Linked DNA regions of Homo sapiens: regions 1, 2, 3, 5, 6 and 7 are each reported to be linked to region 4. Evidence: microRNA targets listed by miRTarBase, many of them from high-throughput screens and not tested one by one. Region 4 holds a microRNA gene; each other region holds the end of a gene's coding sequence.
The links. Region 4 holds the annotated microRNA hsa-miR-6872-3p (CCCAUGCCUCCUGCCGCGGUC, at 2,958-2,978, opposite strand). A microRNA usually pairs through its seed, bases 2 to 8, with sites in the 3' UTR of a target mRNA and lowers its output. Matches are read on the target gene's strand: a 7mer-m8 pairs with bases 2 to 8, a 7mer-A1 pairs with bases 2 to 7 and ends in A, and an 8mer does both.

Region 1 (4,000 bases), not on the chromosome of region 4:
CTTTTCAGTTTGGATTATACTTGGAAAAAGGTTAATCTATTTACCTTCCCCCTCCCCCTTAATCCTAACCTCCCTCAGAGCATCGAACTGGCTCCACACAAAGTCCTCGGACACAACCTCGAGATGAAGACTACGAAGGGGCTCCATGGAATTGTGATAGCTGCACCTTTCTTAACCACCCAGCACTAAATCGCTGTGAGCAGTGCGAGATGCCACGGTACACCTGAATTCAGAAAAGTCTGCGCCAGGTTGAAAGTGAAACTTTGAGCACTACCAGAAGAAAAGGAAACCTCGGGACTCTATTCATCCACCCAGCCTTTTCATTTTCGATTGCACAGCGGGGAGGAGGAATGGCTTTGTGGTCGTCGTTGTGCTCACGAAAGGAAAAATGGGGAGGTCTTTTTTTTCTCCTTTCTTAACTCACTACAGAGTGAGAGATAGAAAGGGATACTTGAAACTGGGAAAGGATTCACTCTGTGAAAGAATGTACACACAGAAGTCAAGAGCTCTTCTGTGGTGGAATCCCAATTGTTAAAGTTACTGCTGAGTGGCCCTTATTTTTTAAAGTAGTACTTTGAATCATAGTATGAAATGCTACAGTTTATGCAAACTGTGAATTCCCAGAGCAGACTTACCTGGTCACCGCTCTCTGGAAAACCAAGGCTCCCCGTGCTTCTTCCCATTGCTTCCTACTAAAGAGGACAACAGGAAAAAGCACCTAGAATATTTGGGGGGGGGGGGCAAATTAATTAAGGGTATTTGTAATTGCTGCTTTTTTCAGGGGTAATTTCCAACACACATACATGCACACAAACAAAATGTTTTAAAATGTGATTTGTAGCAGTCAGGAACTAGGCATATCATGCCTTTGTTTAAAAGTACAATCAGAGGTGGTAAGATGCCTTTGGCTTGTACAGTGTGATTCATCGAGCTCTATCAACACTGGTAACTAAGACCTACTTATGCCACATAAGAGATGCATTTTTTTAAGTTACTGCATGTTTTTATTAAGGCCATTGGTTTTCAAAATAACAAGTCCTTACAAAGTATGATTTTATAAATGATATTCTCGTAAAACTGCGCTTTGCCAGTAGCACAGTGAATGTATGCCAAATGCAAGTCCATTCCAAAATCCATTTGGAAATCTTGAGCTCAGCTGTGGTTCTTAAACTTTTGCAGTCCATAGGGCCTTTTTTTTTTCCTTCCAATTTTGTGATAAATTCATGATGTTTACAGCACAGATAAAACTTTGTGCCATAATCCTAATTTAGCTGAAATCAATATTAACTGTTCAATAAAAACTTACTTGCATATGTTAACAAACCAGTGTGAGGGGAATTACAGTTGGCCAACGACAAAGTTGCACACTGCATTATTTAGGAAAGGAGGGATTGTCAAAAATTATTAAGAGAAAGGTGAATATAGAGGACTTTGAAACAACTTTTAAAATTTAACATAACTGTATCTAGAGGTCAATTGAGTCTCTACAGGCAGTTCAGATCATTTTAAAGCACTCCTTATTTATGAAATAGAACTTCAGGGTGCGGATAAGAGATATAAAGTCATGTGACTCACTAGGGTGCATCGCTGGAAACTTAATAGCACATTTCATTAAGGTCTCTGCCATTGTTGGAGTTCCTTCTTAGCTCAGAATTGGAGTTTTGGAATCTTCCCCTCATTTTGGTGAGTATAAACAGCAATAAAGTTAGTAGGTTCTCCCATCCTAAAGGATTTTACCTGAGGATATCGTCTTAGGAATATCCATAGACGCTCCCATCAGGTTTCTCCCCCAACCCCCCTACACCGCCCCCCCACTTCTAATTTAGCAGTAATCTCTGGCAGACCTGGAAAAACAAGCTGCTCTTAATAGCATAATGAAACCAAAGGCGTAATAACTCATCATAGTTTTCCATCAGAATCATTTCACACTCTGCCTACAGCTTTGAAAACATTTTTTCATATGTGAAAAACTCCCCAAAATATATCCACTAGTCTCCCAAAGGAAGCATGGTAATTAACACTGATAAAAACATCTCTCACACAACAACTGTGGCAAAACTGTGAAAATAACGGTGAGAAAGCAGATGGGCTTAAAAGCATGGTCCCCAAAACAACGTTCTTCAAAGGTTTTTGTAACACTGGTCTCTGTCTCCAATAACAGTCTAGCCGTCCTACTGTTCTGTAATATGCCTTTGCCTTTGTATGGTTTCATATCTCTTTAGTGATGGTCAACCCCACTTGGTTTTAAGTTACAATTTAGGGGAAATATATATATATATACTGCTTGGTGTCCTAGCTAAAAGGTTTACCAGTATTCATAGTGATATGCTGAAGTGGAGGCAATTAACTTGGCAGTTGTCAGTTGAGAATGAAAGTAGCATGTCTGAAAACAGTCTGATGCTTTATAAAACCATGTAGATGACTTTAAAACTATTGCATGAAAATACATCAAGGTTAATAAGCTGTTATACAGTAGATGCATGGTTTCAATCCTTTGGTGATATTATCTAGTCAATCATTGTTTTCACCTGCCAGGAAAAGAGAGAAAACAGTCTATTGGATAGGTGTAAAGGGTGGGGTATGCGGTATCAGATTGATTTTAAGGAAGTTTTGTACATGTTAATTTTTAATTGTGCACAAGTTTCATATGCCAACATAGGCTGTATTCAGTTTTAAAATAGGCAAAATGACTTGACACTGATAAATCTGGTATGTTTAACTGTGTCCCATATGTAGACTGCTTTTTGCCTATGACCAGTTTGAACAAGAATTCACCCAACTTTCAAGATGCCTTTTCAAAAGGATCTTGTAGTCAGTTGGTATGTACAGACAATTGGCATGGAAGTGGTAGGATATAAATCGGATGACGCCTGGCTGCTGAGGTGCCAGCTGGATCAGCTGGTGCACTTCTTGTTTCTTGTAAGAGGTTTCTTTAAAATGACTAGTTTGATGTATCTGGTAACATATAGGCCTGACTATACATTTTACATTATTTCGCTATTTTGTAAACTGGGATTTTAGAAAGCACGTTTGCCATTTTGTTAAAGTACATTGCCCCTTAAATTTTGGAGTAGTTTTTAAAAGTTTAAAATGGTAATAGAGGAGCCAGAAACTTTTTAAGCATTGTAAAATGTTTTGAATTGATATTGACTTTGTTTGGAAGAGAGTAGAGGCAGGGGGCTTTAAAGAAACAAAGAAATGCATTGTAAAAATGTAGTTTTAGAGCAAATTAATAATGATGGTGGGGAAAGTGTTGCTAATTTGTTTATTTCCCTGGAAGAAATGGGAAGTGTGATAAGCAGTTTAATTTTTAAGGAGCTGGTCTCAATTTTAGTACTTTTTAATTATGCAAATAAATCAATGTTTCCTTAAATTTTGTCATTGCTTTGTCACAGTTGTCTAGGGTTCATATCCAACCTTCTGTGGCAATTCAATTTTATATAGTCTTTTAAGAGGTAATTGTAATGTATTTCTGACAGTATAAACAAAAAGAATATAAGGCATAGAAGAATTGTCCTCTAAAAATATCAATGATGTATCCTGGAATGTGAAGATGTCCCTTTATAGTTAAAAATTGAATTATTTTAATATTGTACCATTGTTAGACCTTGAATGAGTCCATGTTACCGTGTGTGTCTGTATATCTATCTGTAGAGAAAGAAAAATGACAACTGAAATGTTACTTTTAAAAATCAGAATAAATTGGGCACTGTCTGTGTTGCACCACTACTGTATCTTTTCGAAAGAATTAACAGTATTTGCCTATTGTAAAGGTTAATTCTGATGACGTTTTCACATTCACCAGACTTTTTTTCCTGTATTATTTGCATCCCCAAATATTTAATACAAGTAGATTCTGCATGGCTTGGGCATTCAGAGATTAATAGAATGATGACTCAATTTTAATTCTAAAGCCATGAAAAGTTACTTTGAGACTGAACAATTCTGAATTATTTATGATACCCAATGTCCATGTTTCTTTCCCTACTGTAAAAGAATT
Region 2 (4,076 bases), not on the chromosome of region 4:
TTCATAGTCCATTTGTGATTAATGTTAATTTCTTATCTTTTTCAGCATACCTGATTGATAAAGTCAGAATCAAAGGCTATTATGCATTCAAACTGGCTGAAGAGAAATCTAAACCCAGATTTGGATTCTTCACATCTGATTTTAAAGCTAAATCCTCAATACAATTTTACAACAAAGTGATCAGCAGCAGGGGCTTCCCTTTTGAGAACAGTAGTTCTAGATGCAGTCAGACCCAAGAAAATACAGAGTGCACTGTCTGCTTATTCCTTGTGCAGAAGAAACCACTGATATTCCTGGGTTGTTGCTTCTTCTCCACCCTGGTTCTACTCTTATCAATTGCCATTTTTCAAAGGCAGAAGAGAAGAAAGTTTTGGAAAGCAAAAAACTTACAACACATACCATTAAAGAAAGGCAAGAGAGTTGTTAGCTAAACTGATCTGTCTGCATGATAGACAGTTTAAAAATTCATCCCAGTTCCATATGCTGGTAACTTACAGGAGATATACCTGTATTATAGAAAGACAATCTGAGATACAGCTGTAACCAAGGTGATGACAATTGTCTCTGCTGTGTGGTTCAAAGAACATTCCCTTAGGTGTTGACATCAGTGAACTCAGTTCTTGGATGTAAACATAAAGGCTTCATCCTGACAGTAAGCTATGAGGATTACATGCTACATTGCTTCTTAAAGTTTCATCAACTGTATTCCATCATTCTGCTTTAGCTTTCATCTCTACCAATAGCTACTTGTGGTACAATAAATTATTTTTAAGAAGTAAAACTCTGGGGCTGGACGCTGTGGCTCACACCTGTAATCTCAGCACTTTGGGAGGCCGAGGCGGGGAGATCACCTGAGGTGAGGAGTTCGAGACCAGCCTGGCCAACATGGTGAAACCATGTCTCTACTAAAAATACAAAAAATTAGCCAGGCGTGGTGACAGTGGCACCTGTAATCCCAGCTACTTGGGAGGCTGAGGCAGAAGTTTGAACCCAGGAAACAGGTTACAGTAGGCCAAAATTGCGCCACTGCACTCCAGCCTAGGCGACAACAGCAAGACTGTGTCCAAAAAAAAAAAAAAAAGCAAAAGCAAAACTTTGTTTTGTTAGACTCTACAGCAGAGATTTAACACCCTTCTTTAAACTGGGTAGTCAGTGATAGATAATATATATTCTGTCACTTCTAATAAGGTGCCTTCTCCTTTAGGTCAGGGTGGTTCTAAAATGGAAAGAAAACACAATAGGGTAAGTAGTGCTTGTCTAAGCCAGTTACAACACAGACTCTTAAAGAGGATCAAGCCCTTCATTTTTCTAACAACAAAAAATCACCTATAGAATATCTAATTTGTGATCTTTTACTAGATCTGATTTTTTAAAATAATGTAATTTCCGGCCAGGCACGGTGGCACCGCCTGTAATCCCAGCACTTTGGGAGGCCAAGGCAGGTGGATCACCTGAGGTTAGGAGTTCGAGACTAGCCTGGCCAACATGGCAAAACCCCATCTCTACTAAAAATACAAAAGTTAGCCGGGCATGGTGGTGGGCACCTGTAATCCCAGCTACTCAGGAGGCCGAGGCAGGAGAATCGCTTGAACCCGAGAGGCAGAGGTTGCAATGAGCCAAGATCGTGCCATTGCACTCCAGCCTGGGGGACAGGGCAAGACTGTCTCTCAAAATAAAAAAAAATAATAAAAATAAAAATAAAAGTAATTTCCAAAACCTCATCTCATGGAAAGATCACAGGATGAAGGAAAGCTAGACTCAACTCTGTGAATAGAAGTTGCTATACTGTAAGTAAAGCAACAATTCAGAATACTGAATGAGTTTAAATTGTTTTATATAGCACCCTTTTGGGCTAGGGTTAATTACTAGATCTGACTTGGATAATTTGACACTTTGGGAAATGAACTCTGTTCTTGAGACTTGTTCAGTGTATTTTAAACATCTGAGGAAGAAAACTTAAATATGCACCTATTTATACCTATTCTTTCTTTAGGTCAACATTTAACACCCACTGCATACATTAATTTGTCCTTGTCTGCTCACTCCAGCAATTTAGACCTTAACAGTCACAAGAGACGTTCTTCTGTTACAAAGCCTTAGTAAATTAAGGCAGTTTTGATTATATTCTAGGTCCACCTATGTCTGAAGCTAAATTCAGTATCTAACTGCTAATGAACAAGTTTCCAAAATACTGTAAAAATACAATTAGTCAATTTGAGTAAATGCAAATATGATGAGAAATCAATTTGCTATTTGGCCTGGCAAATGGGAACAGTAAAATTCTGCTTTACTCTTCTCTAGTCTCCTTGCCCCAGCTGCACCCACTACCCCAAAGTTGGCAGTTTTGAGGTATGATTTTCAAGGAATTTTTTTAGTATTAACATCTCCCTCTGAGAACTATGTACCTAAGGTCACGCATACAACTAGTCAATTCTGTTTTTATTACTCTAACTATGTAGAAACAGTAAGTCACTTAAAACAATCACTTGGCTGGGTTTTTTCCCCTTTGTGCCACATTGATTCACCCTGACCCAAGAACTCCAGGGAAAATTCTTTAATGTCAACTGGGCAACTCATTAACCTCTCTTTAACATCAAGGGCTTGGGAAAAAAAAAAAAAAGGTTAGCCACAGGAATAACAAAAACCTGGAATTTATCTTTCAGGTTTTGCTTTCTCTTTCTCACTTTGTTTAAAGTATCTCGTACTCACAGTTCACAAATTAACCTTCACTGTCTCTTTCACATTAAGAGCTTATGCTTAAAGCATGCCCCCCTTTTCTAACTTGCTGGTTTACCATAAACTCCCCTAAGTAATAAAATTCCTAACCCAGTACTGAGAGTCCTCCTTCTCTGCCACTTGGGCATTATTTTACTAGTTTTTAAGCCATCATCGCACAAGAATCCAAAAACCCTTAAATTTTTTAACCACTGGCAAATATGTACAGCAAATTAGGTTAAGCATTTAATCTGGCTCATGCTCTATCATACTAAATATTCAGGTTTATCATAAACTCCTTAAAAACCATCAAAGGTCAACCAGAAACTGATAACTCTTGAAAGGAGCAAACAGGTAAGATCTTTGGAGTTTAAGCTTTTCTGAGATGTGTTGTGAAAAATCTAACGTGTTTATCGTATATTCAATGTAACAACCTGGAGAATCACAACTATATTTAAAGAGCCTCTGGAAAATGAGGCCAGTACAGTGTGACTACATGTTTAATTTTCAATGTAATTTATTCCAAATAAACTGGTTCATGCTGACCACTTGTATTCAACTAACAACCTGGTCAATTTTAAGAACTGTTGAATGTGAATGGGTTTGGCATTGTAAATGGGCTCTGCCCCAAGACTGCCTCCCCTGAATCCCTTTCTGCCTAGTTGTGCACCAACTTGGTATGTTACTTCTGGGTATATTTTCTCAAAAAATGTGGCTCAGGTGTGGTGGCTCACACCTGTAACCCCAGCACTTCGGGAGGCCAAGGTGGGCGGATTGCTTGATTCCAGGAGTTTGAGACCAGCTTGGGCAACGTGGCAAAACCCTCTCTACAAAAAACTAGCCAGGCATGGTGGCACGTATTTGTGGTCCCAGCTACACAGAAGGCTGAGGTGGGAGGACTGCTTGAGCCTGGGAGACAGAGGTTGCAGTGAACCAAGATCACGCCACTGCACTCCAACCTGGGTGACAGAGACCCCGTCTCAAAAATATGTGGACACCTACATCTAAAAATTGCAAAAATAGTGCACAAGTGCTTATCCATAGTAGACACAGAAGACAATAATTAAGTTTTCCCTGGAGAACTAGGCTCATTTGTTATACCCAAGTTATTAAAAAAAAAAAATCACTGTTTAGCTACAGTCTCTTAAGTTACCTTATGAAGGTCAGACCCAGCATGCCAGTCCATTTCATGCTCAAAGAAATCTCATTTACTCCCACAGCAGCTACTCCCCATAAGCTGATCCTCTCATGAGCATCTCCACCCCACTAGAATATTGCCACTTGGAAATTTCTCCCACAAGCCTCATACTGTTTTGAAATCCTGTCAATACCTTCCCAAAATCTCTCTCTTCCAGTCCCAC
Region 3 (4,076 bases), not on the chromosome of region 4:
ATTGCAGCACCAGGCGCTGGGTGTCTCTCCCAATGCACCTGGACCACTGTAGGCGCTCCCTGCCTGGCTGACTGAGGTGTCACTAACGGTTTCTCTCTTCTCGCACCCCACCCTCCCCGCCCGTGCCCTGTCCCCATCCCTGTCCCTCCCCACCTCTGCCCCCTCCTCTCCACCTTCTCTTTGCTGGCGCCTCCCGCTCTCCAGTGCGACCAAGACCAGTGCATTCAGAGCACCAAATTCGTTTTGCAGGCTGCAGCCACGCCCCTGCTGCAGAGCGAGCCCAGCCTCACCAGCGACGAGCTGCACCTGCCCGGGAAGCCTGGCCTGGGCACGCCCTGCGCCAGCCTCACACTGGGCCCGCCCACACCGCCCGCCTCCATGCCCAACCTCGCCGAGGCCACGCTCGCGGACGTGATGCCCCGGAAAGATGAGCACATGGGCCACCAGTTCCTGACGCCCGATGAGGCGCCCTCGCCCCCCAGGCTACTGGCGGCGGGCAGCCCCCTGGCGCACAGCCGCACCATGCACGTGCTGGGCCTGGCCAGCCAGGACTCCCTGCATGAGGACTCTGTGCGCGGCCTGGTGAAGCTCAGCTCCGTGTGACCCACATGGCCCCAGGCCGGGGGACACCAGAGGCTCCTCCATGGGCAGCAGGAGTGAGCGGAGGGGTGTGTCCCACAGCGACTTTCCCAGCCAATGCCACGGTGGAGATGACAGCCCCAGGTCTGGGGTACAGAGACCACTTAGGATGGCACAGGGTGGCTGGCCCCGGATGCTGAGAGCTTGGTTTCATTTGAATTTTCTTCCCCAACCTGAGTGCTTTGACAACAATGGAAATAGAGAAGTGGCTGCTTTCTTTTGGTGACCCTCCAGGGGTGGAATCGGAGTGTGTCTGCCCGCCCTTGTGACAGACACACGGAAGGCTTCTGACGCTTGTGGCCAGACTGCAATTGCACTTATGTGTTATGCTACTAATATTTGAAACAGACCTGCCATTCCATTTGTTAATTAAAAAAAAAAAAAATCCTAAAGGGAAAAAACCGACCAGGTGTGGATCTGCATGCCACGCTGCCGTCTGTGTTACAGTGGTGTTGCTATTTCCAAGGAAGTGCTGCTTTCTTTTTCTTTTTTTAATTTTGTGAATTTTCAAGTGCTGTTTTGTTGGAAGACAGTGCAACGAACTGAGACTAATGGACAGTGTCATCACTCAGCTTACTGGGCTGAGGCGTCTGTGGAGAGGTGGCACCGGGGCTGCAGAGGGCGGCTGGGGTTCCGTCGTGTCGGGTGTCACTTCACCTTCTGTTTGGCCGCTCGATGAGGTCTCGTGTTGAGATATTGTGTGCCACAACCCCCACAGTCTTCACCTCCGTGTGTGATGAAACTTCCCGTGGACAGCCAATAAAATGACGTCCTCTGTTATTTTGGATCTGCGTACGGTTATCCTTAATAGCATAAATGAAAACAAAGTCATCCAGATGGGGAGAGTTTTTCTTGAAATGTCCCTAGCGAGGAATGGTCCCCAGACAACCAAAAGTCAAATCTTTGAACTGGGAGATATTTATAGAATAATTTCTTAGATAAGAGGCAAGTTTTCCATCATTTATTTTCTTTAATTATCTCTTTTTGACACCATCTTAGTGGAATTTGCTCTACGTTTGCAGTTTGCCGTGCAACAGTTGATCGGAAGTAGGGAGAGGGGAGGGGACGCTCAGGGAGAAGGTTCTGTCGGGCGTCTTCTGGGCTTCCTTCTGTGTTAACGTGTCACTCAATCCCAGAAGTGCAACTTGAGGTCCTAGTAAAGGTATCAGAAAATGAGGAGGAGAAATCGGCTTACAGTCTAAGCTGAGATCATGTAGGTCATCATCCTTCCTAGACACTGATCAGAATGAAATTAAGAAAATGACCACTTTGTTCACTTTCATTGGTCACCTAGAAGGGAACGAACTGGCTCTGGACTTAGGGAGTGTGTCACTATGGGGGCAGCCACAGGGGACACAGCAACTCCTCTCCTGGCTTCTTTCCAGACCATAAATCTAACAGCTAAAGCTACTCAAGTTCAAAGCCATGGCCTTGCTCCTTATAACCATATGAAAGACAAGACACATTGACCAATGATACAAGTAACCCAAGTGATTTGCATTTATGGAAAAAGGCTATTACTCCTGAGAAAGAGTTGCCATTTTATATAAAAGAAAAGAAGATAGGAAAAAGAAAAGCACACAAGTTTTATTTGGAATGAAGGCAATTCACAGGTCACAAAATAATTCATGCTGAAAGGGCCTGCAGAGTTCTTGCACTGTGATGTCTTCGAGCCATCTTTATTGTCATGCTGCATGCACGTATAGAAAATGGAATAGGTCCATTCTATGTAGCCATTTTTGATTTTCTGAACCACCTAACTACTTGTACCCACCTGCAATGTGTAATTCATGGGGCAGTGCCCTCCTTACACAACCGCACACGCTCACAGGCACCAACTCACAGGGATTCTCCTTGTCCACGCTACCTGTGAGCCCAAAGTGACAGCCCCACAAAGGAGCTTCCACAACTTCCCAAACCGTCTCTGCTCCTTGCTTTCTTCCACCTGCTCCCCAGAGGCCCCAGGAAGGAGTTGGCCCTGATGAGAACGGTGCTCCATGGGTGACCGCGAATCCGGCTTAGCCCTCACTCCGGTCCCACGTGTGGCCCAGTCCATTCTCAGCTCATTCCCCTGGAAAGCAAGATCATGGTCTTCAGAGGCCTCCCGCTTCTAACATTTCCTAACTCAGTGGTTGCCACTCTCCTGTGACCAGCCCTTCTTCCCACCTCACTGTGAAAAATTCCCAGAAGCCAGGATCACGACTCACTTGTCTTCACATAATGGATATTTACTTAATATTTATTATCAATTTCCCCACCTCCAACCCTGTCCCTGGCACACACTTGGCATCATTTATCCAATAGGGGACTGGGAATTTTGGTGAAGTGAATCAAGGCTATTCAGGGTCAAGAGAGAGATTAACTTGAATGGGCCAATTTGCTAGATAATTAATGTCTTAAAAACCAAAACCAGAGAGAAGCCCACAGCCCTGTCCTCTGTGGCTTGAAAAAGAAACCCAGCATCAGAGGAATGAGCGATGATGCCCCCTGGGGCGCCCACTTCTGTTTGTCAGGAGGGATGGTCGGAGGGGCAGCTCACCTGGCGAGGTGATGGCTCTGCATTTCCCACGAACATATATGTGACATGTACATAAATATAAATACTTATGTTTATAAATGTTGAATGGTTCCTTCTAGCTGTGGCTGAGTAGACGTTGGTGTTTCTAACTTCTTTCAGTGTGTTAGAGATTGATTACATGCTAGCTATAAAAAGTAAAATAAATATTTTACCATGCTATTAAAGCTTGGACCATTATCAAACACACACAAACACACACTCATTCTGCTGTTTAAAAATTCATCTGCGTTCGTTCTCCCAGGAGTGCTCCAGGGAACCACAGGCTTCCCGGCACTTGAAGGCTGAACTGAGCGTGAGTGCCCTGGTCCCCAGGAAGCAGGCGGATGCTGCAGGAAGGTGGCAGACAGCCTGCATCCAGGAGGGCCCCAGGAAGTGGGGATGCTGCAGGAAGGCGGCACAAAGCCTGCATCCGGGAGGGCCCCAGGAAGCAGGGGGATGCTGCAGGAAGGTGGCAGACAGACTGCATCCAGGAGGGCACAGTGACCTGTCACTCCGTTCTGCAGAAATTGGCCCAGCAGTTGCGTTATGCCCAACCAAAAGATGCTCGTTCCAGCTTTCAAATGTGATGATTTCAGCCTGTGAGGACAATGCCATGTCCCCACCCTAAGCCAGCAAAATGCGAAATCTCTGTTCTGGCCCAGAATGGCACAAGGGAGGAGTCTTTGCAGAGTTCCACGCCACCCCCCAGCTTACTGCGGCCTTCACCGGCTCTGTCTAGGATTGCCAGCTGTGGTTCCAAGTGAGGAGCAAACCCATTTTATGAGCCATGTTCCTGCGGAGACCTGATGGGCCAGGCCTTCTGTGGCTTTGAAAACCCCTAAGCTCTTCACCTCCTGGGCCTAGGCCTTCTTGTCTGACT
Region 4 (4,076 bases):
CTTCCGGGCCCTAGCACGCGACGGAAGAAGCAAAGAGTCATTGGGAGCCGAGGTGGAGCGGGAAAGGGGTGCCCGCAGGCGCACATTTTAAGGCTGAGTGTTTGGGAGCTGGTGGTCTTCAAGGGAGAATCCGAAAGAGGCGGGGTTTACATGAACTTGGTGGGGGGTGGTCAGGGACCTTAATGGGAGGGTCGAGGGCGGGTCTTCTCCTTGATTCAGGGGAGGCGGGTCGGGAGCCCCGTTGGACGCAATGGGGCCTCAGCAGCTTGTGGAGTGCAGGTGAGGGACCAAACTGGACAGGGCGGGGAGTGGGTCTGGTTGGACGGGGCTTCGTTGGGTAGGGCGGGGCCTCTCCTGGATGCAGGGGGTGGGACAGGAGCCTGGCGGGGAGGGCGGAGTAAGGCTCACCTGGGTGTGGGCTGTCACCCCTGCGCGCTGGAAAGTCCACTCCACGCGCGCCTGCAGCGAGCGGGGCTCACACTCCAGAAAGGCGCTGCTGCCCTCCACGCCGAACACCTTGTGTTCCAGCAGCGCGGGACGAGACGAGTCTTGGGGCGAGAAGAAAGTCAGATTTAGGCAAGGCAGGGCAGGTGGGGCGTCTTCTGGGGCTGAGGGTAGGGGCAGCTGGGGCACTCACCTCCGGAGCACAACGTGCTGGGGTCGCCATTCCTTACGTCTTGCCGCCGGAACCGCCTGTGGGGAACATCCGATCTTCTGTGAGCCCTTCTTTCAGCCCCGGGCAGTGAAAGACCCTTCGCCTCCCTCCCGGCGGCCCAACCCCGACCCCGCCCACCTCTTGGCACTGGGCTGGAAGCGCGTGCACGCGACCCCGTCCCAGGCGCAGTAGGGGTCACGCGCCAGACAGCATTCGGTGCAGACGCGGCCGTGGGCAGCGCAGCGGTGCAACGCGATCTGGGCCACCGCGCTCCGCGAGGCTACGTACAGCTGGTGCTAGGGGGCACGAGGGGCTCTGGGCTGACCGAGGGCGACCCCACGCCTGCCTCCCATCGGTCAGGGATCCCTTCTTCCACTCGACAGATGGGAACACTGAGGTCTTACGCCTCAGGTCACACAGTCTAACAAAGCCAGAGCCTGTACTCAAACCCGGGACTGCAAACTACCAAAAGGGGCCAGAGGCTTGGGACGCGCCAGGCACAAGCTCAGTCCATCCCACCCCGACCCCCATCCTGGTCACTCACCCTCTTGGAAGAAATTTGCATGCTGGTGACAGCGGCCGAGTCCTGAGAGGGAGGAGGGGCGACGGGGTCAGGGCTTAGTGGGGTGGGGGGGTCCCGGGCGACTGGGGGTGAGGCCTCACCTCAAACACGTGCAGCTCCTCCAGGAGCAGCCCCTCTGCGCTGGGCCTACTGCCCTTGGGGACCGAGATCACCTTCAGCACCGTGCCAACGTCTGCAGGGATGAGAAGGGGTAATGACCATTGGTGCTCCCGGACAGCTGGGGCTAGTGTCTCCTCGCCTTTGAGGCGTCTACCCTCAGCATGTTTGGGTTGTGAAGAGTGTGGACTGGAAGAGTGTGGGTTGGGCAGCATCCACAGGGTGGAGACACAGCCCAGGAAAGGATGTGGAGATGGGACTGAACAGGGAGAGCTTCCATCAGCAGCCCACAGGGCCTGGCTGGGAGCCTGGGGGTCGCTGTGGAGGGACCCTGACCTGTGCCAATGAAGAGGACGTCATAGTGTCCGTCAGCGGCTGCAACCCGGTCCGCGGCAATTTGAGTGAAGGTGTAATTGGCTCCAACTTGTAGGAAAAGAGGGCGCCCCCCAGTGGGCAGGACAGAGTTGTACATGAGGGGGTGGTTCCGCGCAAACTGGATGACATCGTCTGGGAAGTCCTTGGTGGAACTGAAGGTGCCAAAGGTCTTGCTGGGGCACTGGGGGTGGGGGAAAGGGAGGCACAGCAGGGATATAGATATGGGGGCTTGATAGGCAGCCCTCCATGCCCAGCCTCTGGGAACATGGAGGGGGATGGGGACAGAACCCTGCCCTGAGAATTAGAGAGGAGATCAGCCTTGCCCTAGGAAGTCAGAGGCGGGAAACAAGCCTTGTCTTATGATGGAAACGTTTTCCCACCCATAACTAAAGGAAGAAACCACATTCACCAAGAAGACCCCAGGCCAAGTTCTCAAACCCTTGAGGCTTTGAAGTGGGTTGTAGCAGAAGTCCCTGGGCTACGAACCATGCCTGGCCGCGGGTAGGGGACGCGACCCTGGTATGACACCCACTGGTGCATGGGCCCCTCCTTGTGTGCAAAGGGTCCCAAGAAGGCCCGGCGCACGTCGTTCATGCTGTACACGCACACCGCAGAGCCCTGGAAGATGCTGCTGGAGGCGAAGACCAGGGCGAGGTGAGGGGCCGGGTGGAGCCCAGCGGCCCGCCCCGGGCGCTCCCTACCTCCTGCCCCTCACCTGGACGTGGAGAAGACGGCATAGAGCAGCGGGGTCCGGTGGTCCCGCGAGGACAACAGAAACACATCCTCTGCGGGGAAGGGGCCTAGCTGGGGTAGGGCGCACAGCCCCGCTGCGGCGGGGGCTCCCGGAGTCTGCGCCGCTGCCCCCCTCCCCAACCCCATACCCACTCCCGCACTCACGGAGCTGATCGAAGTGGGTGTCGCCCTCGACGCCGGGCACCGAGCACACCAGCCGCGCCTTCAGGAACGTCGTCCACTTGTTGACCAGGCTGCGCTGGCCGCCCACGTCGTTCTGCCGGGACGATCAAAGGGGATGAGGGCGAGACCAGGGCAGGCAAAGGGGTAGGGGCAGGGTCGCCGGGTGTGGCCCAGGGACTCCTCACCCGGCAGATCTGGCCAACGCGGGACACGGACAGGCGTCCCAGTGCCGGCGCCGCCTCTACCGCCGTCTCACGAAAGAAGAAGTAGATTTTGTCGTCGTCTGGGTTCTCGCTCTCCGGGATCCAAAATACCTTGACAAACTTGGGCTCTGACCGCGGCAGGAGGCATGGGTCAGCGGGTCCTGGCCTTGCCTCCTGATGCGAGACCCACGCGCTGCTTCCCCTTCCCGTAGTGCGGGCACAGCACCCGGGATCACAGTGTCTGACCACCCAACCTCTAGCACCATGTCCAGTTGGCGCTCTGCGCGGACCGAATCCAAAGGATCAGGGCCTGCGAGGCAAGAAGCAGCCGCGAGGGGGCAGCAGAGACCGTGGCTACCTGGGGGCGCAGGCGTGAAGCCCGGCTAGCCTCCGATCTCGCCCCACACGTCGCCCAGCACCTTAGGCTGGGGTAGGAGGGAGATGAGGTAATCTGGTTTCACCTTCACTCATGAATCTTCCTCTCTAGCATAACCAGATGCTCCCCACTCCTGCTTCAAATCCTTCTGCTGGGTCCCATTGCTCTTTATTATTATTATTATTATTATTATTTGTTTATTTATTTATTTTTTGAGACAGTCTCGCTCTGTCGCCCAGGCTGGAGTGCTCGATCTCGGCTCACTGCAACCTCAGCCTCCCAAGTAGCTGAGATTACAGTCAGAGCCTACCACCACACCTGGCTTTTTTTTTTTTTTTTGAGACGAAGTCTCGCTCTATTGCCCAGGCTGGAATGCAGTGGCACAGTCTCCATTCACTGCAACCTCCGCCTCCTAGGTTCAAGCGATTCTCCTGCCTCAGCCTCCTGAGTAGCTGGGATTACAGATGCACACCATCATGCCGGACTAATTTTTGTATATTTAGTAGAGACGGGGTTACACCATGTTGGCCAGGCTGGTCTCAAATGCCTGAACTCAGGTGATCCGCCCGCCTCAGCCTCCCAAAGTGCTGGGATTACAGGTGCACACCACTGCACCCGGCCAATTTTTGTATTTTTTAGTAGAGACAGGGTTTCACCATGTTGGCCAGGCTAGTCTCAAACTCCTGGCCTCAAGCGATTTGCCTGCCTCCGCCTCCCAAAGTGCTGAGATTACAGGTGTGAGCCACTGTGCCCACCAGCCCATAGCCCTTATTTAATTTTTATTTGATTTAGAGACAGGGTCTGCTCTGTCCTGCAGTGGCAGCATCATGGCTCACTGCAGCCTCCAACTCCTGGGCTCAAGTGATCCTTCCA
Region 5 (4,076 bases), not on the chromosome of region 4:
TGGCTAGGAGGGGAATCCAAGCATGGAAAGGTAAGTTGGGACCTTTCCACTGAGGCCTCAAAGGCAAGACCCCAAGGAATTTGGCTACAGTGGGGGCATTAGGGCGACTTGCACCTCTGTGGGAGCTGGGGTTCTGGGAAAGGTATGAAGCGACGCAGCCACGGTGGATGCCATGCCTGGGATCCACTCCTGACTCTATCTTTGTCCCCCTAGAGTATGCAGAGAACATCGGGGACGGCCGGAGCCCGGAGTTCCGGGAGAACGAGCAAAAGCGCATCCTGGGCTTGCTGGAGAACTTCTAGAGGCACCTTGGCCCTGCGCATCATGGACTCTCTCAGCTTCCCTCCCAGGATCAGTTTCTACACAACTCTGTGTGGCTTTTGGACAAATTAAAGCTAGTTTTGGTATCCCCGGGCCAGTTTTCTTTGTAGTTAAGCTTCGCCTGCTGACCCTCCCTGCCCCCTCCCCACAGCAGCTACTTCAGGACTCCCCCAGGGAAGGCACATGGGCAGCCTCACTCCGCCTGCAAGAAAGCTGAGGCTCAGAGGGTGTAGCAGTGACAACTTCGCCACTGTGGCTACGCAGGTGGTGCTGCTGTGAGGCTGGACTGGGGACCCGCCTAGAGTCTAGATGTGGGACCCAAGGCCCTGGCCTCATGCTCCAGTTCCCTGGGGAGGCCAGCCACACAGCACAGCCCTCAGAGCATGCAGAGCCCTGCCGCGTGTCAGACCACTCGGGTGGGGGCTGCATGGAGAATTACCAGATCCCAACGTGGGCCCCACCGCAAAAATAGCATCCAATCTCTCAGTGAGGCCCTGGCATTTGGGCTGTTTAAAGCTCCCAGTGGTTCCGTGCATCAGGGTGAGAGCCACTGCTTTAGAGTGGACAGGTTTGGGTCCATCTCCCCACTGCATCATTACCAGCTGTACATTTTGTTTTGGTTTGGGTTTTGTTTTTTTTTTTTGAGACGGAGTCTCCCTCTGTCGCCCAGGCTGGAGTGCAGTGGCGCAATCTCGACTCACTGCAAGCTCCATGTCCTAGGTTCACGCCATTCTTCCGCCTCAGCCTCCCGAGTAGCTAGGACTACAGGCGCCCGCCACCATGCCCGGCTAATTTTTTTGTATTTTTAGTAGAGACGAGATTTCACCGTGTTAGCCAGGATGGTCTCGATCTCCTGACCTCATGATCCACCTGCCTCGGCCTCCCAAAGTACTGGGATTACAGGCGTGGGCCACTGCACCTGGCCGGTTTTGTTTTGTTTTTCTTTTTAAGACACAGGGTCTTACTTTGTGGCCCAGGCTGGAGTGCAGTGGTGCAACCACAGCTCACCGCAGCCTTGACTTCCTGGGCTCAGGCGATCCTCCCACCTCAGCCTCCTGGGTAGCTGAGAGGGAGGTGCCACCACATCTGGCTGATTTAGCTGTACATTTGGATAAGTGACTTTCACCTTTCTGAATCTCACTTCTTAAACTGCACAGTGGGGCCAATAATACCCATTTGCTGCTGAGGATGGCATGCTCAGCAAGCCTGCAGCGCAGTGATGAAGGCACAGTCGTGGCTTGGTAGCTGCTGCTTCCTTTGGTTCTTCCCACACACATTTGTGACTTCAGAATTGTGATTTCAGGCCAGATGTGATGGCTCTCGCCTGTAATCCCAGCACTTTGGGAGGCCAAGGCGGGGAGGATCTTTGAGCTCAGGAGTTCGAGACCAGCCTGGGCAACATGGTGAAACCCCATCTCTACAAAAAATAGAAAAATTAGCCAGGCATGGTGGCACATACCTATGATCTCGTCTACATGGGAGGCTGAGGTAGGAGGATTGCTTGAGCCCAGGAGGTCAAGGCTGCAGTGAGCTATGATCATTCCTCTGTACTACAGCCTGGGCAACAGAGCAAGACCCTGTCTCAAAAAATAAAAAAGAACTGTGATTCTACTCATTCGACATAGGTGATGAGAAGGTTGGTTTCCCCCTCAGAAGTCAGCAGTGCTTTAGCATGTTTTTAATCAATCCTCAAAGAACAGAGTCCCCATGAGTGAGGAGGCAGAAGAGTGGCCAGATGAAGAAAGCAGCATTTCATTCCAATGCATTGTGCAGCCCAGGGTCACAGACAGGCTGCTGGGGATGCTACACGCCTCGCACTGTGTCCCTGCCCCTCTTGCTGCTCCCTAGACCCTGAGGGACAGGGCCCCAAGCGGCCACTGCCATCAGGCCAGAGTTGACATGCTGGGTGAAACCTGTTTGCCATCCCAGGAAGCCACCGAGAGGTCCCTGAAGAAGATGGCACCTGCTCTGTGTCCAGCCTTGGGCTGGTGACGGAACAGAGAGTAAGGCAGGCCCTGCCTGCTGGTGCTCACTTGCAGCCTGGCGGGAGAACAATGCATAACTGTAAGCGTCCCCACAGAGAGGGGCAGGAGAGCGCGACAGGGCCTGTCACAGGATCAGATGGCGGTGCCGTCACTTTGGGTCTAATTCTTCCTTGACTTTTCTGTAACTGTAGTAGCTGGCACATATCGAATGCCCAGTGGCATTGTTATCCCCGATTTATGCAAGCTGAGGCTGAGGGCTCAGAGAGGGTAAGTAGCTGCACAAGGCCCTGTGGCCAACAAGCATCAGAACGCACATTCTAGCCAGGCCTGTCCGACGGCGCAGTTCACACCCTCTCCCGCTGAGCTCCTCTACCTGGAAGGGTCACACCGTACCGGCTGACGCCGTGCTCCGATCCTTTCATCTGTTGTGTGGTTTAATGAATTCACAAAAAATAGAGCATGTCCAGGTGTAACTTAGAGAAGCAGACTTCTAGAGCTAAGATCGGTACTTTAGACATCATCAGTCCTTCACCTTGATTTTCTTTTTCAATTTTAATTTTAACCAGGTAATGCTTGCAAACGGTATAGGAGTTCAAAATTTAACAAAAAGCGAGGCAGTGAAGAGTCCACCCACTCCTCTCCCATCGCCTAGGACTTCCTGCCCCTGGAGGCAGCTGCTGCCATCTGATTCTCCTCCAGAGTTCTGTCCAGCATTTTGCCAGCCGTGTTTGGAAGCCCAGGCTACCCACCAGCTCCCAGAGGCCAGCATAGGAAGGAAAGGCCGGGGCGGCTCAGGCACTCCATGGTTGCCGCACCTTGCCCTGCTTCGCATGTGGCAGCCTCCTGAATTCTGTCCCTTTGCTAAAAGCAAGTTGGAACTCTTCTCTTGACAACTGAGGAAGCGGTCCCCTTTTCCATTAGTTTTGTGTGCGGAGGGTTAGGGGCAATGTGAGGTGTAGTCCCTTCGGGTGCAGCAGGGGAGTACGGTTCCAGGGCCCGAGGGACCAAGGAGACAGCGTAAGGAGAAAGCAGCCACCACCACTCCCTGATTTCAACGACCCAAGGCCCCGCAAAGCTTTTCAGGGCGAGGTAGAGCTCCTCATTGCTCACCCTGGGCTCTTGGGGCGTGGTCCCAGCTTTCAGGCAGCTCGCTGTCTGCCTAAAAAACCCTCTGACTCACAAAGCAGCATCTCTCCTCTGGGGGAGCTTCTTGGGCTTCCAGGAAAGGCTGCCCTTGGCCTGTGGCTCCGAACCTGACTTCTTTGCCCACTGAAAGGGCTCAGTCTAAATTTGCCCCTTCAAACAAAGCTTCTTCATGTTCATCCTCATGTCCATAGCTGAGTGGGACCAGACCATAGCATCCAGAGAGGCAGTATTCCTTTTCCAACCCAAACATGGCAATCGGATTGCCTTTTAGCAATATTCGCCAGGGTTTCTTCACAGGGGAAATAGGATTCCACCCTCATTTTCCATGGCGGCTTGCTGCTCCGTTTGTGGTGGTCGCACGCCTGGAATCAGCAGCAGCAAGATGGGCCGTCTCTAATTCACAGAGATTTGCATGCAGGCTGCGTGCCTTCCTTATCTAGGGAGACGCATTGTCAGGGCCGCTGGAAGGCATCCTTCAGTCACCCCCACGGTAGCACCAGTGCACAGGTGGCATCTTCTGCCATTACTGAGGGCGTCAATTTAGTGTCAACAGGGAGACGAGACTCGCTTTCCTAAAGGCAAGGCTTCTTGATTAGATTTCCTTACCCAACAGTAGAGGTAAAA
Region 6 (4,076 bases), not on the chromosome of region 4:
GTTGGCTGGGCACGGTGGCTCACGTCTGTAATCCTAGCACTTTGGGAGGCCAAGGCGGGCAGATCACTTGAGGTCAGCAGTTTGAGACTGGCCTGGCCAACATGGTGAAACCCCGTCTCTATTGAAAATACAAAAAACAGCTGGGCATGGTGGCACACGCCTGTAATCCCAGCTACTCAAGAGGCTGAGGCAGAAGAATCGCTTGAACCTCGGAGACAGAGACTGCAGTGAGCTGAGATCGCACCACTGCACTCCAGCCTGGGTGACAGAGCAAGACTTTGTCTCAAAAAAAAAAAATTGTTAAAGCAACATCAATTCTATCTATGTGACATTACCAAAGAAAGCATTATACCATTTGTGTCTTGGGGGGGTTAGGGACAGGGACAAATAGTCAACCTGGTGGTTGCCCTGAGGCTCGCCCCTTCCCCCATCCTTTCCAGTATCCTGCCTGAGCAACCTTTTGTTTCTGGTGCACAAATACGACTGCTGGGCCTGTTTTCTTGCAAAGGTACTTTCAAACATAGCTTGTATTGCCTTTATTCATTTTTTTTTTTTGAGACGGAGTTTTGCTTTGTCACCCAGGCTGCAGTGCAGTGGCACAATCTCGGCTCACTGCAACCTCCGCCTCCCGGGTTCAAGCGATTCTCCTGCCTCAGCCTCCTGAGTAGCTGGGATTACAGGCAACCGCCACCACACCCGGAAAATTTTTGCATTTTTCGTAAAGACAGGGTTTCGCCATGTTGGCCAGGCTGGTCTTGAACTCCTGACCTCAGGTGATCCACCCACCTCGGCCTCCCAAAGTGCTGGCATTACAGGCGTGAGCCACCCCACTTGGCCTTGTATTGCTCTTAAAAACAAATAAACAAACAAAAGACTCAGGTGCTTGTAATCATCTATTCTGCGGCTGAGAGAATATCGGCCATGGCCCGCAACCAGACAACCAACCTGTTTCCAAACATGAATATTTTAAAATATTAGACTTTTGTTCTGGTAACTTGGAAATTCAAAAGGAATTTCCGTATTGAAGGATGACATTATGTAATATTTTAAACTCGAAATTTCTTCACACCATTAAGGTTTTTCAATTTTGAAAGTCAATGTTCCTCCAACAATAAAACAAGAAAAACATCTCATTCTTGATGGGGACAGATAGGGACAGGTTTTTACACTAACTTGAGCAGTGGGGAACAGGAAAAGATTGCTCTCTGCAAATGGTGTGATTTCACTGAGGAACACAACAGATCCTTTCTCTCTGTGTAAATCAGCCAACCTATTCTGTGATCACCATTACAACAGAATTTGTGTATGCAAATTCCCGGCTGGGCCTTCTCCTGTCATCCTCCCAGCGGCTCCCCCGCCCTGCTCACGCTACTGAGACACTGGCACCTTACCTCAGACCAGAGCCCAGCACTAAACCTCTGGTTCCACTGCACAGGATCTCAGTTCTTTCTTACATCCTGAAGTTTTGTGCCCAGTAACACAGGGGACGAGGTATAAGCTTCATCCAAAACAGTGTTGTGAAAATGTTTTGACTACAACTTTCAGTAAGAAATGAATTTACGCTATGATCCGGTATACACCTGTGCACACATGTGCTGCACACACGTAAACAAGTTACACAAAACATTTTCCTTAGCTATGTATGGTACATTGTGATCATTTTTCTCTTACACCATTTCATTTTTTTAAATGCTGGTTTTCCGCACTAGATCAATGTCACAATCCACTAATGGGTCCTGACCTGGAGTTTGAAACACATGAATATGCAATGCTCTCCCATTATGAGACATGTCCTAGTCCCTAAGCTAATCTACTTGGAACTGTAAAATTCTAAGAAACAGAAATAGATATTTCAGTAGAAATAATAAAAAAGATTTCTTTTCACTGGCACATACAAAATGTGAAGTTGAAAATCATTCTGAAATTAGCCAGGCATGGTGGTGCACACCTGTAGTCCCAGCTACTCGGGAGGCTGAGGTGGGAGGATCACTTGAGCTCAGGTGATAGAGGCTACAGTGAGCTATGATTGCATCACCACTCTCCAGTCTGGGTGACAGAGTGAGACCCTGTCTCTCTCTCTAAAAAAAAAAAAAAAAAATTTAACTTTAAAAAAGAAAATCATTCTGAAGAATTGGTGGACACAGATGTTATAACTACTCAGAACACAGGCAAACACAGGCAGTTTGCGAGGGAGCCTAAAGGAAGAGTGAGGGCACTCACTGGAACCCAGCCCATCTGAACAGAGGCAAGGAAGACTTTGGTTTATTGACAGGGTCTCACTCTGTTGCCCAGGCTGGAGTGCAGCGGTGCAATCAAGGCTCACTGCAGCCTCAACCTCCTGGACTCAAGTGATCCTCCCACCTCGGCCCCTCAAGTAGCTGGGACCACAGGCATGTGCCACCACACCCGGCTATTTTTTTAATTTTTTTTTTCTTTTTTTGAGACAGAGTCTCACTCTTGTCACCCAGGCTGGAGTGCAATGGCATAATCTCAGCTCGCTGCAACCTCTGCTTCCCAAGTTCAAGCGATTCTCCTGTCTCAGCCTCCCCAGTACCTGGGATTACAGGCGCCCGCCACCATGCCCGGCTAATTTTTCTATTTTTAGTAGAGATGGGGTTTCACCATGTTGGCCAGGCTAGTCTCGAACTCCTGACCTCAGGTAATCCTCCCACCTCAGCCTCCCAAAGTGCTGGGATTACAGGCATGAGCCACCGTGCCCGGCCTATTTTTTAAATTTTTTGCAGAGATGGGATCTCCTTATGTTGCCCAGGCTGGTCTCGAACTCCTGAGCTCAGGTGATCCCCTCACTTTTGCCTTCTAAAGTGTGGGATTACAGGCATGAGCCATGGGGCCTGGCCAGGGAGACTTTTCTATCCATGCTGCACGGCAATCTTGTCCTCCTTTTGCTAGAAGAAATAAGACTCTTGGGGCTAGGAAGAACCTTAAATGTCAAATTCCATTTTCTCTTGTCAGATGACAAAAGTAAATCAGCATTTCCTTTAAAAATCGGAGCACTGACTTTGGTCCTATTCAAAATAGCTACCTTCAATTAGAATTAGGGTAAAAAATGATTCACCATAATGTTGTTTAACTTTCTCTCTTTTTTTTTTTTTTCAAATTACTAGAATTTTATTAGCCAAGGGATAGCAGCTGGAGGAGAAATAACAAAAAAATACATCTTAAGAATCCTTAAGTACAGTGCATATTTACAATTTAAGTGTCATATTTTAGAAGGCCACTGTCCATCAGCTCAGTAAATGTACCAGCTTCTAAAGCCATGATGCCATAGGTCCATTTGTTGATGAAATTCCTACCCACTGTCCTCGGGCATCTGACTCTGGTCTCTGCACTGGCATCAAGAGAACGCTGCTCGGTGGTTTAAGGCTAACACCTTACAGGGTAACACTGTAACACTGGCCCTGGAGCCAGGTGCTTTTCTCCATGAAAACTTCCACCTTGGTAGCTCAGCCGACATAGACAACACACAAAGCGCAGCTCTGCACTTCTGTCCTTATCTTCACACAGTGACATCCACACCAGGTGGCCAAACAGAAGAGAAGGCAGAGGCCCACCAAGAGCTGATGCTGCGCAGTCCTTGGGGGATCATCCTCCGGTCTCACTGGGGACGAACCCAGGTTCTGGAGCCTCTCCCCTGACAGACAGCTTGTCACCGGCACTTATGGGTCCTCTGGGATTTCAGACAATACCCAACTTCTGTAGGTTCAGAAAGTGCTTTCAAGCAGGCAGTGGCACCCACACCCGGTGGGACACACCTCCTGGGTCCGAAACCACTCCATCATGTGGCTGGTGTGGCCACCGTGCCCACAGGTCAGGCAGAAATTGGACGATCCCCGCACAGCCACGTGACAGATGGCACACTGGAACGTGAAGCCTTTGCAGATGGCACACTGCGTGCCACGGACCTCACTCCGGCAGTGGCTGCAGTACACGCCGAACTCTGGAAATGGGCAGGGACGGGCAAAACAAGAGGCAGCATGAGTTTAGTTCTGAAAAAGGAAACTGGGGCTTGCCAGGAAGAAGGAAGTCTTCCTCTCAAGACTCTAGCAGATTCTCTT
Region 7 (4,069 bases), not on the chromosome of region 4:
GTGACCCTTGACCTGTAGGGCTTGACCTGTTTCTCTTTCCTGTGCAGCCATTGACCTCATCAACAACCTGCTGCAGGTGAAGATGCGCAAACGCTACAGCGTGGACAAATCTCTCAGCCACCCCTGGTTACAGGTGATGCAGGGGGCAGGGCTGGCCCATTGGCTGGATTGGAGGAAGGGGTGGGAGTAGATCGCTTATTGGCTAGGCAGGTTGTGAAGGATGTAGGTTTCCTTGGGTCTGGAATGTGGCTAGGCCTCCCATTGGCTGGGTGCAGGAAGAGGGGGTGGAGCTAAATGTCTACTGGCTGGGTGGGTTGCAGAGGGTATGGCTTCACCTTCATTGGTACCCAGCTCTCAGTGGCAAACCAGAGGATATCCAGGCACTGCTCCAATGCAGACCCCAAGCTAACCCCAGTTCTCTCGGGCCCAGGAGTACCAGACGTGGCTGGACCTCCGAGAGCTGGAGGGGAAGATGGGAGAGCGATACATCACGCATGAGAGTGACGACGCGCGCTGGGAGCAGTTTGCAGCAGAGCATCCGCTGCCTGGGTCTGGGCTGCCCACGGACAGGGATCTCGGTGGGGCCTGTCCACCACAGGACCACGACATGCAGGGGCTGGCGGAGCGCATCAGTGTTCTCTGAGGTCCTGTGCCCTCGTCCAGCTGCTGCCCTCCACAGCGGTTCTTCACAGGATCCCAGCAATGAACTGTTCTAGGGAAAGTGGCTTCCTGCCCAAACTGGATGGGACACGTGGGGAGTGGGGTGGGGGGAGCTATTTCCAAGGCCCCTCCCTGTTTCCCCAGCAATTAAAACGGACTCATCTCTGGCCCCATGGCCTTGATCTCAGCACACGGCACTCTCGAATCATTACTCTGTTGTACCAACATGGAGTTCATCTGGAAGGAGGACTGCCTGAAAAGAGGAAGGATGGAAGGGGTGGGGAGAGAGGACTGATGGGAGAGGAGTCTTGGAAGGAGGACGAGCTGGGGTAGAAAATATACAGGAAGAGTGCCAGGAGAGAAGATGAGAAGGGAGAGGGAGGAGTAATGGAGGAGGAGTTGGAAACTGGGGAGAGATGGAAGGAATGTGACTGGAGGGTAGAGAACTTGGAGAAAAAGTAATCTCATGGTTTGTGATGACTGATTTTTTATTTGGTGGTGGTGTTACTACTAATCACAACTATTAATTCAGGCTGGGTGTGGTGGCTCATGCCTATAATCCCAGCAATTTGGGAGGCCGAGGCAGGCAGATCCCTTAGATCTCAGGAGTTTGAGAGCAGCCTGGCCAACGTGGTGAAACTCCCTTTCTACAAAAAGTTCAAAAATTAGCCAAGTGTGGTGGCTTGCACCTGTGGTCCCAGCTACTTGGAGGTTGAGGCTAGAGGATCGCTTGAGCCCAGGAAGCAGAGATTGCAGTGAGCCAAGATCACACACCACTGCACTCTAGCCTGGGCAAGAGAGTGAGACCCTGTCTCAAAAGTCAAATAATAAAATGCAGTTAGCCCAAGTCTGATCCATACTAGAAAACTGATACGTAACATTCAGTATTTTATTTTATGTTGATGTGATGACTTCTCTATCTATGAAATAGAGAAGTATATATTCACTCATTCCTTTGTGTCACTGAGCTGGGTGATGCTGGGGACACAGTGGTGACTGAGACAGCCAAGGACTGCCCTGCCAGTAGAGAGACATACCTGCCCCTGGACAGTGATGACCCAGAACGGGAAGGGCTGGACTGGGGGAGTTTGGGAGGCTTGGGCAGCCTAGAATGAGCTCAGGGGTCAGAGAGAGTGGGGAATCAGAGGTGACCTCTTAGGCTTCATCTTGGCCTTGAAAGACTGAAGGCAGAGGGAATGAACTGGAGGGAACACGTATCCACCTCTCTCTACCTTTGACTCCAGCCCTCCACCTCCCCAGTTCTCCAGTAACACCCTAACACATGGTCCTCCACCTTCCACAGCTGAAGGTGAACGATCCGAGCATGGACCTGAACAAGTTTTCTTCAGACTTTCAGAACGCTCTGACTTACGTGCTGCAAAGACCTATCTGAAAGCTGGGCATGGTGGCGGGTGACTGTATTCCCAGCTACTTAAGCGGCTGAGGTGGGAGGATCGCTGGAGTCCAGGAGTTCGAGTCCAGTTTGGGCAACACAGCCTTAAAAAACCCAGGAAAACAGGAAAGAATTTAGTAGCCAATTTAGGCTAATACTGGGAGCTTACTCTGGGATTTTCCAATTTGATTTGTATCACCTTGTCCATCTGATGGTTCCAGAGCTGCAGCTTTTTTTTTTTTTCCTGAGGCAGGGTCTCTGTTTCCCAGGCTGGAGTGCAGTGGCATGAACACAGCTCACTGCAGCCTTGACCTTCTGGGCTCAAGTGATCCTCCCACCTCAGCCTCCTGAGTAGCTAGAACTACAGGCACATGCCACCATGCCCAGCTAATTTTTTGGATTTTTTGCAGAGGTTTTACCATGTTGCCCAGGCTGGTCTCAAACTCCTGGGCTCAAGCGATCTGCCTGCCTAGGCCTCCCAAAGTGCTGGGATTACATGCATGAGCCACTGCGCCTGGCCAAAATGCAGCTCTTTGATTTGAAAATGCTAAACGAGCCTCAGTAAATGAAGGTATCCAAAGGAGCAGTATACCTCTGAGGCATAGTTGCTAAGACTATTGGGGAAAGGCTCTTAGACTCCATCCCCAGTGCCTATCCCTCTGTTTAGTCTAAGGTCCAGAAGTGTAGGCAACATAGAGATGAATCCATCTCCCGTGACAGACCCAGGCTAGAAAATGTATGGAAAAGACTATCACCCCTGATCTGCTTCTGTCTTGGCCACTAGTTAATATCCAGAGACCAGAAATGAGAGACGTGATTCAAAAACATTCCTCAATTATAGAATTCCAGGAGATAGTGTATATCATGAGGATGCCATGAAAGATAAAATCAAGGCCGGGCGCAGTGGCTCACGCCTGTAATCTCAGCACTTTGAGTGCTGAGGTGGGTGGATCATCTGAGGTCAGGAGTTTGAGACCAGCCTGATCAACATGGAGAAACCCCGTCTCTACTAAAAATACAAAATTAGCCGGGCATGGTGGCACATGCCTGTAATCCCAGCTACTCGGGAGGTTGAGGCAGGAGAATCGCTTGAATCTGGGAGGCGGAGGTTGCGGTGAGCTGAGATCGTGCCACTGCACTCCAGCCTGGGCAACAAGAGCGAAACTCTGTCTCAAAAAAAAAAAAAAAAATCAAATCCATACAATGAAAACTTAGGGCCCTATAACTTAAATCATTAGAGACAAAAAGTTTATCCTATCAGGACCACTGGAATCACAAAACCTAATTTTGTTTGTTAGAGACAGGGTCTTGCTCTATCACCCAGGCTTCTGTGCAGTGGTATGATCGTAGCTCACTGCAGCCTCAAACTACAGGGTTCAAGCCATCCTCCCCCTCAGCCTCTTGAGTAGCTGGGACTACAGGCATGAGCCACCACACCTCGCTAATTTTTTGTTTTTTATGTAGTTTTTAATTTTTTTATTATTTTATTATTTTTTGAGATGGAATCTTGCTCTGTTGCCCAGGCCAAAGTGCAGTGGCATGATCACAGCTCACTGCAGCCTCAACCTCCTGGGCTCAAGTGATCTTCCCACCTCAGCCTCCCAAGTAGCTAAGACTACAGGCACATGCCACCACGCCCAGCTAATTTTTGTATTTTTAGTAGAGAAGGGGTTTTGCCATGTTGGCCAGGCTGGTCTCGAACTCCTGACCTCAAGTGATCTGCCCACCTCGGCCTCCCAAAGTGCTGGGATTACAGGCATGAACCACCGTGCCCGGGCATGTTTTTTATTTGTTATAGAGATGGGGTCTCACTATGTTGCCGAGGCTGGTCTTGAACTCCTGGGGTTGAACGATCCTCCACCTCTCAAAAGTGCTGGGATTACAGGTGTGGGCCACTGCACTCAACCTCAAAACCTAATGTTGATAGAGACACTTGTATATACTGTAAAGAAAAGGGACATTGGACTTGACACTATTTAGCTTTGAAATGCAAAAGGAATTTGAGTCTAAGATTCA

Region 1: the mRNA of TAB3 is a reported target of hsa-miR-6872-3p. Seed matches in the 3' UTR shown: 8mer at 2,836-2,843.
Region 2: the mRNA of KLB is a reported target of hsa-miR-6872-3p. Seed matches in the 3' UTR shown: 7mer-m8 at 1,528-1,534.
Region 3: the mRNA of ZDHHC14 is a reported target of hsa-miR-6872-3p. The part of its 3' UTR that is shown has no 7-base or 8-base seed match.
Region 5: the mRNA of CTNNBL1 is a reported target of hsa-miR-6872-3p. The part of its 3' UTR that is shown has no 7-base or 8-base seed match.
Region 6: the mRNA of WDR59 is a reported target of hsa-miR-6872-3p. Seed matches in the 3' UTR shown: 7mer-A1 at 2,874-2,880 and 7mer-m8 at 2,577-2,583.
Region 7: the mRNA of PRKD2 is a reported target of hsa-miR-6872-3p. The part of its 3' UTR that is shown has no 7-base or 8-base seed match.

What each region holds. Positions count from the first base shown.
Region 1 is chrX:30,827,654-30,831,653 of GRCh38, reverse strand. It overlaps TAB3 (TGF-beta activated kinase 1 (MAP3K7) binding protein 3), which reads left to right. Exons shown (of 11, transcript NM_152787.5): 11 at 79-4,000. The coding sequence ends at 227. Among named protein-coding and RNA genes, the nearest start is that of TAB3-AS1, 5.0 kb to the left of the region's middle.
Region 2 is chr4:39,448,256-39,452,331 of GRCh38, forward strand. KLB (klotho beta) reads left to right here. Exons shown (of 5, transcript NM_175737.4): 5 at 46-3,278. The coding sequence ends at 431. Among named protein-coding and RNA genes, the nearest start is that of RPL9, 8.6 kb to the right of the region's middle.
Region 3 is chr6:157,672,520-157,676,595 of GRCh38, forward strand. ZDHHC14 (zDHHC palmitoyltransferase 14) reads left to right here. Exons shown (of 9, transcript NM_024630.3): 9 at 205-4,076. The coding sequence ends at 603. Among named protein-coding and RNA genes, the nearest start is that of MIR3692, 150 kb to the left of the region's middle.
Region 4 is chr3:50,272,177-50,276,252 of GRCh38, reverse strand. MIR6872 (microRNA 6872) reads right to left here and starts at 3,017; the gene lies at 2,956-3,017. It overlaps SEMA3B (semaphorin 3B), which reads right to left. Exons shown (of 17, transcript NM_001290060.2): 7 at 2,810-2,955; 8 at 2,607-2,718; 9 at 2,425-2,494; 10 at 2,196-2,340; 11 at 1,671-1,890; 12 at 1,319-1,410; 13 at 1,200-1,241; 14 at 794-951; 15 at 638-693; 16 at 409-548. RefSeq lists enhancers at 2,377-2,900, 2,879-3,078.
Region 5 is chr20:37,871,712-37,875,787 of GRCh38, forward strand. CTNNBL1 (catenin beta like 1) reads left to right here. Exons shown (of 16, transcript NM_030877.5): 16 at 214-407. The coding sequence ends at 302. Among named protein-coding and RNA genes, the nearest start is that of VSTM2L, 29 kb to the right of the region's middle.
Region 6 is chr16:74,870,487-74,874,562 of GRCh38, forward strand. WDR59 (WD repeat domain 59) reads right to left here. Exons shown (of 26, transcript NM_030581.4): 26 at 876-3,958. The coding sequence ends at 3,723. Among named protein-coding and RNA genes, the nearest start is that of FA2H, 98 kb to the left of the region's middle. RefSeq lists enhancers at 985-1,533, 3,739-4,076.
Region 7 is chr19:46,671,097-46,675,165 of GRCh38, reverse strand. PRKD2 (protein kinase D2) reads left to right here. Exons shown (of 18, transcript NM_016457.5): 17 at 48-133; 18 at 431-850. The coding sequence ends at 643. The region is part of intron 2 of DACT3-AS1 (DACT3 antisense RNA 1); the gene reads right to left. Among named protein-coding and RNA genes, the nearest start is that of DACT3, 12 kb to the right of the region's middle.